2 linked regions of the Homo sapiens genome follow. The protein of the gene in region 1 interacts with the protein of each later gene in a pairwise test. Each region holds a gene or a part of one and is shown on either strand. Other genes may lie near its edges.

Region 1 (4,632 bases):
TGTGTCTATATTTTTTGTGTTCCACATTATTTTGTTAGGTATGGTTTATTTTTATTGCTGAATAATATTCTACTGTATCACTATACCACAATTTATCCATTTTAATCATTGCCAGACATCTGGATCATTTCTGATTTGTTGCTATTAGATTTGCTGGAAGAACATTGTTGTATGTGTGTTTTGGTGCACATGCACATGCTTTTCTAAGTAGGATATGTACCAGTGGAATTTGTGTGTCTTCAACTTTGTTAGGTAATGCCAAGCGGTTTTCTAAAGTAGTTGTACCAATTACTTTTAATTCATGAATTTATTATAAATGTGACCTAAAAGATCTTTTATAAATCAACTATCATTTTAATATTCCTTAAAGTGAAATTACTGATAGCAACAAAGGTCGGAAGATGTTGGAGAAGATGGGTTGGAAGAAAGGAGAGGGCCTGGGGAAGGATGGTGGAGGAATGAAAACGCCGGTAAGACTTGGATTTTCTTTTATTCATTTATTCCTAGAGCAGACATTTACCGTGTACATTAATGTGCCAAACGTTGCCTTAAGTGCTAAGAATATAGTAGAAAGCAAAAGGAGACATGATTACTGCCTTTGTGGCATTCACAATTACCAAATATATACATGTGCTTTGTTTTGTGTTTTATATTTTTAGAAAGCCTCTTTTTGAGTTTTTTTCCCTACATTAAAGCTAGGGTGAGAAGTGCTGTTTCCTGAGCCAAAGGTTCTTCTGTGTTTTAGAGTCATTTTTAATAACTGTCAGAGCACTCAAGAACAATCACAGTGTTAGTTTACAAACAGGTGGATTGTGTATGAGCTGAAAAATCTGTTTGGTTCAAGAATCAGAGCATGTAACATGAAATATAGAGAATAATCTCTGGAAAATGACATAGTGGTTTAATTAATGGTCCCATGGTTCGTAGGAGGTTTAGGTTATCTTTCACACAAACCTTAATAAGTAACCTGACTGTAGAACTTTCTGGATAATGAACTTAGTACCTAAAGAAATAATAGATGGATCAGTGTGAGTATATACCAGCTTTCTCATTTTTTTTGAGGTACAGTGGAAAGAACAAGGATTTTGTAGTCAGACCTAGGTTAGAATATGTGCTCTATCATTTACTAGCTATGTGGCTTTGGGCAAGTTTGGACTTTAGTTTTCTTATGAAAAAATGGGGATAAGAACTCTTTTTCAGGGTTGTCTTGAAGATAAAGCCCCTAAGCATTGTACCTTACATTAGGCACTCAGTAAATGGTAGCTTTGAATGTTCTTAAAATATTGAGAAGTGCTCCCCTCCTGTTATGAAAACAATCAAATTCTTTTTATGGTTATTAATGTTTAACCTGCTTGTTCACTTACTTAGATAAGGATAGGACAGTGGGTTTAAACATATCCATTGCCTTTATTTCTGGTTAGGGTGGAATGACATACTCTGCAGCATCTAAATGAAATTTGGTGATTGCTAGTTAAGGAGCACTCTATTTTCTGTAAAGTAGGCTGTACTTATTGACAAGGCAAGACAACATAGAAAAATGAATGTAAGTTCCATGTATAAAGGTATATATATTCCTGTATGTATTTGATGCATCTGACAGGTTTTTCTTTTGCATCAATCTTTAATAAATCAAAAAATTGTAGAGTCCTAAGTTGGACACAGCAGATTTCAATGTGTTTAGACTCTAAAATAAGTCCTCTGCTCAACTTTTGGTAACAGATCCAGCTTCAGCTTCGGCGAACACATGCAGGCTTGGGGACAGGCAAACCATCCTCATTTGAAGATGTTCACCTTCTCCAAAACAAGAACAAAAAAAACTGGGACAAAGCACGAGAGCGGTTTACTGAAAACTTCCCAGAAACTAAGCCTCAAAAAGATGACCCAGGGACCATGCCTTGGGTAAAAGGGACTTTAGAGTGAAGGCTAATCATAGAAAAAAAACCTCTAGTTTTTTTAAAAATAGAATTTGGAAACTTATTTTTTCTCCCCAAAAGAATCAGCAGCACAGGGGAACTATGTCACAGTTTACCTCTTCCTGATTCAGAAATGTGTATGGTTTGCAGCTTTTAAAAACCATTTTTTTAAAACTAATAAATAGTGACTGAACCAATTTATGCAGTAAATAGACTAAAGTTCACAGGGCACGGATGAGTTTATCAAACTTCGTTATTTTATCTTGTCATTTACAACATCCATATAAGCAACTAGCCATATAAGCAAAATTCATAGAACTACTAATGACTTAAGTGTACATCTGTTCTTGTCTCCATATATTCATGTAAGATGCACAACAAAAGAAACATCAGAAGTTTATAAAAATAAATCTGACTATATGCATCCTCATTTATTCCCTTTAGAACCTAGGTAAAAAATGTTGCGAAAACATGGGTAGTGGCGCATACATTTTGTTATCCTTGAAATAGCCTAAGTAATGTTATTGAAGAACTAATGAACAGGTAACATATTGTAGAAAATTAGTCTTTCATTGTTTTCTTCTGTGAAGAATCTGTTGCTATGTACTGTATATTCAGCATTTATATTTGGTTTGTTTCATAGCTAATGAGGTATTTAGATATGAACAACTGAATACATATTGAAATAGTGTGCTGGCTTTTGTAGTTTTGATAAAGACCATTGCAGGCAATGGAATTGTGCCAGAGAAATCTGATTTCTAGTACAAAAGGAATACTTAGCCAGGGCCTCAAGCTCAAGATACTTATTGAAAACATCCTCAATTGCAATAAAAACATTATAACATGAAAAAGAGTGATTTTTTGAACCGGTGATTTAAATGTATTGATCTGCTTTGAATTTTCAAGCAGCCAGAATTTTCTAGTTTAAATTGGCAGAGTTATAACAAAGGAGAGCCTCAAATATTAGACAATTGCAGTGCGGCTTTCTGGGCACAGGTGTCACTGCTCTGCCACCTATCACTATTCTTTTTCTGTTCAGTTTTTCTCTCAGGTGTTTGCTGGGAAATTAACACTGGAACTGACCCTTTTCTGGCAGTGAATGTAAGCTCTAGCTCCCCCATCTACTATAAAGAAATGTCTTCGAGATGTAGAAATAAGGAATATTCTGAAAATAAAAATTATACAGTAGTAAAGATAATTCAGAAAGAAAAAGCTACCTGTTAGAATTTCCAGTCTAAATGGCACAGGGTAGTTACGGAGAAAAGGGGATGGAGAAGGAGAAACTATGACTAAAGATGAGAGGTATGAACGAGTTGTCAGGTTCCTATGGGCTTAAGCTAGGACAATCAGGCCCTAAACTCCAAATTTGGATAAAATATCTCTTTGCATTCTTCTTGGCCACCTGCATAGTCTGACACATACGTATGTACAGTTAGACTTGCAGGCTGCAGGAGTGCCCTGCATTGTTTTCTTTTAATTAGAAATAAAAAGTATTAGTCTAAATGTGGTTCTGGTGCTGGTGCCCTGTATATATGTAACAATATAGGACCCCTCCAAATAGGTTTTGCTTCTGGTGAATCTTGGTCATTGGGTTAGTATATGACTGTCTATAATATTTTCCATTTGTATTATTATATTGGGGAAAACATTTTTTATCATTTTCTATTAAGAAAATGGAAAACTTAAATATGGTGTTAAAAATGGAAATATATGTGATATTTGCATTATTAAACCCCTTTGCAGATCTAAAGTCTCAGGGTTCCACTATTAGTGGTTAAAGTACTGAATAATGTCTGGGTCTATTTCCATCTGTAAAATAAGAATATTTGTCTCACGTGTCTGTCATGAATAGCAAATGAGAAAATGTATATAAAAGCACTTTGTAAATTGTAAAAGTAGTACAGATGTGAGCTTCTATTTGTTTAGAAGCATAAATGTGAATTATATACAGTTTGAATTTTGCATAAATTTTTTGTGTCTAATTTTAAATATTTGTTTAATCACACTACACATTTTCTGAGTAGCGTTTAAGTATGTATTTTAAGTGGAGCTGCAAGTTCTGAATTTTAAGAAATCTAACATCTAATATTTTTGCCAGAACATAAGCTGGCAAAGTTGAGAACAGAAGAAACTTTCAACATTAGAGTAAAATAGAAATTTTTTCCAGTATTAAATAGAGGAAGCACCCTTATCCTCAAAAAGAGGAACTTTTTTCTGCTTTTGAAACAAGTGTTACTTCTGATGTGTCATTTTTATCCTGCATTTATAGAACGTAATGGTTTACGCAAATCAAAAACCTTCTGACTTTCCATAGAATATTTTTAATTTTTTATGATTTTTATTTATTTATTTTTTTGAGACAGAATCTTGCTCTGTTGCCCAGACTAGAATGCAGTGGTGCAATCTCAGCTCACTGCAACCTCAACCTCCTGGGTTCAAGCGATTTTCGTGCCTCAGCCTCCCAAGTAGCTGGATTACAGGTGCATGCCAACATGCCTGGCTAATGTTTGTATTTTTAGTAGAGATGGGGTTTCACCATGTTGGCCAGGCTGGACTCCAACTCCTGACCTCAGGTGATCTGCCTGCCTCAGCCTCCCAAAGTGCTGGGATTACAGGCGTGCGTGAGCCACCATGCCTGTCCAAAAGATTATTTCTTAATTTGACATATTTTTAAAGAGCAGGCAAAGAAGATAGAAATCTCAAACAAGGGAAAGCAAGA
Region 2 (7,301 bases), on another chromosome or scaffold:
TGGTAAAATCTTGACACAGTGTGATCAGTCTTTTCAGTTTAATACTGTGGTTTATCAAATCTTAAGATGCTATCGACTATAAGAAACACCATCATTGTTTTATGTACCACCTAGCAAGGGAAAATGCTGCCAATTTTTTGGTAATTTGTAGTAATATGCCATAATTATATGATGCATCCCAATTTCAAAGATGTTAAAGTGTTTAAAAAAATTGTCAGAATCAATGTAACATGGAAGTAGGCTACATTTAATAGTTCACTTAAGTTTTAAAAGCTGATTAAAATATTTTAAAAAGCTGGAGAAGGGATCAAGTCCAGTTATTAATGCTTTGGGTTTTAGTTCCATTTAATTTTCAATTTGCTTTTTTTGATATTAGGAAAGTCTCACAATAATAAACAATCATAGCTGTTAAAACTGATAATCCTTGGTTTTTAGTACCCAGATCCTGACTTATTTACCTGTTTCTAATAAGATTATGCTTTATAATGTGAGCTATTGTATTCTAAACTTAGAATAAGTATGTCTGGTTCAAGTTGAGTTTCAAATAAAAACACCTTCATGCTAATTTTTTTTTCTTTTTTCTTTTTTGAGACAAAGTCTCGCTCTGTTGCTCAGGCTGGAGTGCAGTGGTGCCATCTCCACTCACTGCAACCTCCACCTCCCAGGTTCAAACAATTCTCCTGCCATAGCCTCCTGAGTAGCTGGGATTACAGGCGCCTGACACCACACCTGGCTAATTTTTGTATTTTTAGTAGACATAGGTTTTCACCATGTTGGCCAAGCTGGTCTCGAACTCCTGACCTCAGGTGATCCACCCGCCTTGGCCTCTCAAAGTGCTGGGATTATAGGCATCAGCCACCACGCCTGGCCTGTCCTATATTCCTTGAATAGTCTATGTTACTGTGTTAAGATTATAAACTATCTTAGAAAAATGCTTTGAATAATGATGATATAATCAGATTTTCTGGGCCATTTTGGAAAACCATAATCTTGAATTTATTTGCAGTAGATTTTATTGTATACCTGGGAAAGCAAAAATGTCTAATTTTAAATCTAGAGTAATTTATAAAAATTATGGAGTTAAGTAAATTGGTATAATGAAGACTACTGAGTGCTAGCCTCCGGACCATTATAAAACTATTAAGTAATAGAATGTCTTGAATAGTCTTTTTGGAGTTTATATTAGGCTCATATTTAAGAACTGCTAATGAGGTACACCATGGCTGCATGAGGTTGTGGCAAGAGCATTGGACCTCAGTGAAGTTACTCACTCATCTTGAGCCTTAGGCCTTTACCTGTGTTATTTGCCCTGCATAACTCACAGGGCCTCTGAAGAAATGAGATAGTACATTTGAAATCACTTTGTACCCGGTAAAACATGCAAGTGAGGTTTTTTTTTTCTCATAGCCCTTTACAAGAGATGTGAAGTTCATACAATTTTGCTTAAGTGTATCCTTTTTCTCAAGAAGCTTATGCTATAAATAGAAATTGAAAATGTTTACCAATATAAATGACAGATTAAATGGAATCTGCACATAGATTACCTGGACTGTATCAATAGCATACTGTGCCTTCAGTATTACTAGAAATAAGAGTATGTCTGTCTTTGAGAGGTTTGAGATACTCAGGGTTTTCTTCCTCTAAAAGGTGCTTTTATACTACATCTAATACTTGGCATATTCCCATCCCATGCCTCTTAATGAAAGGAGAGTTTAGGGAATTATTAAATGCTTATAAAGTCTAAGAGAAATTATTTAAATGGAGTCACTCTTTGATGGAGGACTGCTTTAAGTACAAGTTTAAGGTAAAGATAAGCCCTTCTTCCTCATAGAATGATAGACATTCAGTTTAACTTTGATATTCAAAATAGTGCTATAATTGTATATAAGGCTACCGGTGTGGTCTGACAGAAAATTATGCAAAGATGCCCTTACGAATAAAGACCTAGGCCCGGCATGGTGGCTCACGCCTGTAATCCCAGCACTTTGGGAGGCCAAGGTGGGCAGATCACGAGGTCAGGAGTTCGAGACCAGCCTGGCCAATATGGTGAAAACCCCATCTCTACTAAAAATACAAAAACTAGCCAGGCGTGGTGGTGGGCACCTGTAATCCCAGCTACTCGGGAGGCTGAGGCAGGAGAATCGCTTGAACGCGGGAGGCGGAGGTTGCAGTGAGCCGAGATCATGCCACTGCACTCCAGCCTGGGTGATGGAGCCAGAGTCCGTCTAAAAAAAAAAAATACCTAAACCAAAGGACCACCTTATAAAACAACATAGTAAAAATATCTACATCATTTGGTTATCTTGTTATTGGAAGACTTGAAAATGTTGATTAATTCAGAACAGGAATATAGTTTGAAATCTTCTCATTGTTTGAAATTCCATAATTGAGTTGTTTTCACTTAAAATAGCCGTTAGGTTGTTTAATCAATTCAGGTTATATATACCTACATAACAGTTATTCTCCTATGGCCAGATTCATTTCTTTCTGGAAATTATGACACTAATTTTATAATCCAAAAATATATTAGGACAAATTCTATTTACTTTTCCAGAAGTTAAATGGGTATTTTTGTTCTACTAGTGTGGTTTCTAGCTAAACAATCAGATAGTTGTTCTTAAATGCTTACTATTTTATCATGAACATTTGCTTCTCTAGCTGCTGTAGTTAGAGCATTCATTCTCCAGATAATTATTGAGCACCTACTTTGGGCCAGTCTCCATGCTTTGATTTGAGGGTGCAGTGGTGAACAAAAGCAGACAAGTGAGGAAGCCTCCTACCAAAGAAGGGTACTTGATATTTTGTTCTCTCATACCTCTCTCTGGTACCCTGTGTCTTTCAAGTACTTTACTTGGCTATGGGATATGTATATAGTAGCACATGCAGGAAATGCTTCTTAAATGAAAAGATGGGAACTGAAGTAGTGATTGATGTCTGTAGAGTCAGTTTGATTAAACATAGCTTAGTAAAAGCAGACAAACCAAAAACAGATTTTAGGTTTTAATTAAACCTGAAAAGGCTAGAAGTATAGAGAAGAAAAAGAGGAAGGTAGTTGTAATATGTGGAGTAACAGGAACTAAAATTTGCCTTTATTATCATGTGTGCAGGGTTTTTGTTTTTGTTTTAAAGAGACAGGGTCTCACTGTCACCCAGGCTGGCGTGCAGTGCAGTTATACTGCAGCCACAAACTCCTGGACTCAAGCTATCATCCTCCTGCCTTCGCCTCCCAAATAGCTGGGATTACAGGCACACACCACTATGCCCAGACAGGGTCTCAGTATGTTGCCTAGGCTGGCAAGATTTATTTTTTAAAGATATCGATATAAGTTCTAAATACTTGATGTGTGAAATACTGAGATAGATATTTCATAGAATTTTAGAGCTGGAATATTTAAGGGGATCATCAAAGTTCCAGAATGTGTTTTTTGCAACTCAGAGCTAAGACATAATGCTTTTTTATACAGATGAATGAAACAAAACATAATAGAATCCAAATTTTGATAAATATTTGGTTTTAGAACATGTTATGTGAGGTACTTGGAGAAAACATACTTTTATAGGTGGTTTTCTAGACTAAAATTAACATTTTAATAGGATCGGCTTCTCCGCTATCCCTATGCCATTGAACTATAGATGGTCTAAAATAAACCCTGGCCCACATTAATGTTTTTATTTAAAATTAATTTGCATTTCTTCAACACAAGGTTAAATAGAATGAGCGTATTGAATCTCAGGATGTTAACCCTAAAATTAAAATATTCCATAAATAATCCACAATGAGGGTCAGTCACAAATGGAATAGATAATTGAGTTGGTACCATAATACAGATTTTGGTTCTTAATTGAGCAATTTAGAAGAATTTTATTTAGTATTTCTTTCCTTCCTACAGCTACGGTTTGCTGAGAAAAAATGCAAATTTCTCCATCAAGACTATAAATTTTATATGGCAGGAAACTTGTCTCTAGTTCACTATCATCACTAGTTCGCAACAGTTGTCACTTAGAAAGCTTGTCTCTACTTCTCTAGCGTAAATAAAAGCTCTGTAAACCTTTGTTGAATAAATAAGGGATGATCATGTAATAAAGCTAGTATGTTTCACATTTTATATATTTTTAAATGTTTTCTCTTCCTATATTAGCAGTGAGTGAAGATCTTGTAATCAGGTTACGTCGACCCCCTCTAAGATACCCAAGATATGGTAAGAGATTGTTTGTCTGTTGGTTTACCTTTGTTATAAATACAGTTTTATTTTTAAATATGGTTGTACATGTATTCATATGATTCAGAACTTAAAAGTTACTGTAAATATACATTAAAAAATCTCCCTGTCCCCTCTGTCATTCAGCCAGCCAGTCTCTCTTCATCAAAAGCAACCAATGTTGTCAGTTTATATTTTTTGGAGATTTACAGAAATTCATGGATGAAATTATCTTGTCCTTTTTATAATACAAATTTTGGCTTTATAAACTCTCATTTCTGTCTTTTTTTTTTTTTTTAATTTGAGACAAGATCTCGCTCTGTCATCCAGGCTGGAGTGCAGTGGCACAACCAGGGCTGACTGCAGTCTCAATCTCTCTGGCTCAAGCAGTCCTCCTGCCTTAGCCTGCCAAGTAGCTGAGACTATGCATCCACCACCACGCCTGGCTGATTTTTGTATCTTTTGTAGAGATGGGGTTTTGCCATGTTACCCACATGATCTCAAACGCCTGGGTAAGTGATCCACCCACCTCAGCCTCCCAGAGTGCTGGGATTACAGGCATGAGCCACGGCACCTGGCTTACTTTTCTGCACTTTCTTGTTTATTTTTACTTAACATATATACAGAGATATTTCTATATTCATATATAAAAAGCTTCCTTTTTTAAAGAGATTGTTTCTTATATATTCCTGTGATTCTTTATGATGATTTTAAACTATGGTCAGGGACTTTATTCTTCCAGTATACTGCTAACAAAAAATTCAAGCTGGAGCTCTGTGGCACAGAACGACAAAATGTCCCTCCCTCAGTTATCTTTTTGACTAAAACGATTAAAAGTATTGCCCTGAAATTGATTTCATGACTATGAAGAAAACTAGTAAAGACACTCCAAGCAGTCTACTTTTACTTCATTTTCCTTGTTTTTTTGGCTCTTAAAGATGCTTTATCATGGGAACTAAAAAGGAAATGTATTTATCTTTATATTAGGCTTCTGTACCTTCCCATTCTCTTTATCAAAGAATGATGTTGATTTATTTCGATAGATAGTTGACTATCCTTTTAAGTATTCCAGTGGTAAAGATCTACTAAGGTTTTGTTAATGAACCTGTGGTAAAGAACCATATGATGCATTTCCTTTTCAACCCTAATCATTCTCTTGCTATGTCTCTTGCAGATTCGACATACAAAACAAATAGAAATACTAAAATGAGTGAATTATGTTCGTTTATTTCTATTCTTTTTTTTTTCCAGGCAGGGTCTCACTCTCACCCAGGCTGGAGTGCGGTGGCGTGATCTTGGCTCACTGCAGCCTCCTCCTCCTATTGTAGTCCCAGCTACTCTGGAGGCTCAACTGAGCCTCCTACTTCAGCCTCTGGAGTAGCTGGAACTACAGTCATGCATCACCATGCCTGGCTGATTCCTGTGTTTTTTATAGAGATGGGGTTTCACCATGTTGCCCAGGCTAGTCTCGAATTCCTGGGCTCTAGCAATCCACCCGCTTTGGCCTCCCAAAGTGCTGGGATTATTGGCATGCACAACTGCGCCCAACCCTATCTCTAATTCTTACAAGGTCTCTTTGAGGGTCCAGATTAATAGAATACAAGAGTATATATATCTAGTCATTGGCTTGAGAATACTAATTTATTATGTCAGTTTGTGGGGACCCAGTCCCTATGACTAGGACCTCCCATAAACAGCCTTGGTTTTTGTTGTCTATAATTATGCCTATATTATTGCTTAAATTCATATAAAAACATGTAATCAATTTAGTCCTGCTAGTCTTCATTAAATTCACACTATTAGGAAAAAGGAGATAACAACTTACCAATTAAGGTTTTTCTCTTGATTTATTTTTTGTTTTTGTTTTTCTGAGACAGAGCCTTGCTCTGTCACCCAGGCTGTAGTACCGTGGTGCGATCTCGGCTCACTGCAACGTCTGCCTCCCAGGTTCAAGCAATTCTCCTGCCTCAGCCTCCCAAGTAGCTGGGATTACAGGTGCCCACCACCACGCCCAGCTACTTGTTTTGTATTTTTAGTAGAGACAGGGTTTCACCATGTTGGCCAGGCTGGTTTCAAACTCCCTGACCTTGTGATCTACCCCACTTGGCCTCCCAAAGTGCTGGGATTACAGGCATGAGCCACCACGCCCGGCCTTTCTCCTTGATTTTTATTTTTATTTTTTATTTTTATTTATTTATTTATTTTTATTTTCTCGAGACAGGCTCTTGCTCTATCACCGAGGCTGGAGTGCAATGGCGTGATCTTGGCCCACTGCAACTTCTGCCTCCCTGGTTCAAGTGATTCTCCTGCCTCAGCCTTTCAAGCAGCTGGGATTACAGATGACCACCATGACACCCAGCTAATTTTTGTATATTTAGTAGAGATGGGGTTTCACCATGTTGGTCAGGCTGGTCTCGAACTCCTGACCTCAAGCAATCCACCTGCCTCGGCCTCCCAGAGTTTTGGGATTGTAGGCGTGAGCCACCACACCTGGCCCTTTCTTCATTTAGAAAGTGAATTCGATACGTTGTTCACGGCGAGTTCAGTGTCCTTTGCTGTAATACGTTCGTTGAACGGGTTTTAATTCATTTCAGTGTCTGCCTGGCTATAGGACATGACATACCATGATTTGTGGTTTTAAATGAATCTACATTGAATGTTGTTAGACTTAGTTTTTTTTACATTTTAATTATTTTCTAAATTTGAAGATGAGCCAAAAGGGAAACGCTTCATTTTTCTTTATAAATCATTGTACCTTCCTCTAATTCATCTTTCACTTAAGTTCAGGCCACTTCTTTAGAGACTTAAAAAAGCTTTTTAGGCTGGGTGTGGTGGCTCACGCCTATAATCCCAGCACTTTGGGAGGCTGAGGTGGGCAGATCACCTGAGGTCAGGAGTTCAAGACCAGCCTGGCTGGCATGGCAAAACCCCGTCTCTACTAAAAGTACAAAATTAGCCAGGCGTGGTGGTGCTGTGCACTGTAACCCCAGCTGCTTGAGAGTCTGAGGCAGGAGAATCACTTATACCCAGGATGCAGAGGTTGCAGTGAGCCGCAATCACGCCATTGCACTCCAGCCTGGGCAAAAAGAGTAAAACTCTGTC

Evidence for each region.
Region 2: the proteins of AGGF1 (region 1) and TOR1AIP1 interact in binary tests that used the Homo sapiens proteins (3 or more experiments, as listed by UniProt).

What each region holds. Positions count from the first base shown.
Region 1 is NC_000005.10:77,061,333-77,065,964, forward strand, and holds the end of AGGF1 (angiogenic factor with G patch and FHA domains 1), read left to right. Parts: intron 1-370; coding exon 371-470; intron 471-1,719; coding exon 1,720-1,920; 3' UTR 1,921-3,902; downstream 3,903-4,632. UniProt on the Homo sapiens protein: Promotes angiogenesis and the proliferation of endothelial cells. Able to bind to endothelial cells and promote cell proliferation, suggesting that it may act in an autocrine fashion.
Region 2 is NC_000001.11:179,885,171-179,892,471, forward strand, and holds part of TOR1AIP1 (torsin-1A-interacting protein 1), read left to right. Parts: intron 1-4,139; coding exon of another isoform or gene 4,140-4,142; coding exon 4,143-4,199; intron 4,200-7,301. UniProt on the Homo sapiens protein: Required for nuclear membrane integrity. Induces TOR1A and TOR1B ATPase activity and is required for their location on the nuclear membrane. Binds to A- and B-type lamins. Possible role in membrane attachment and assembly of the nuclear lamina.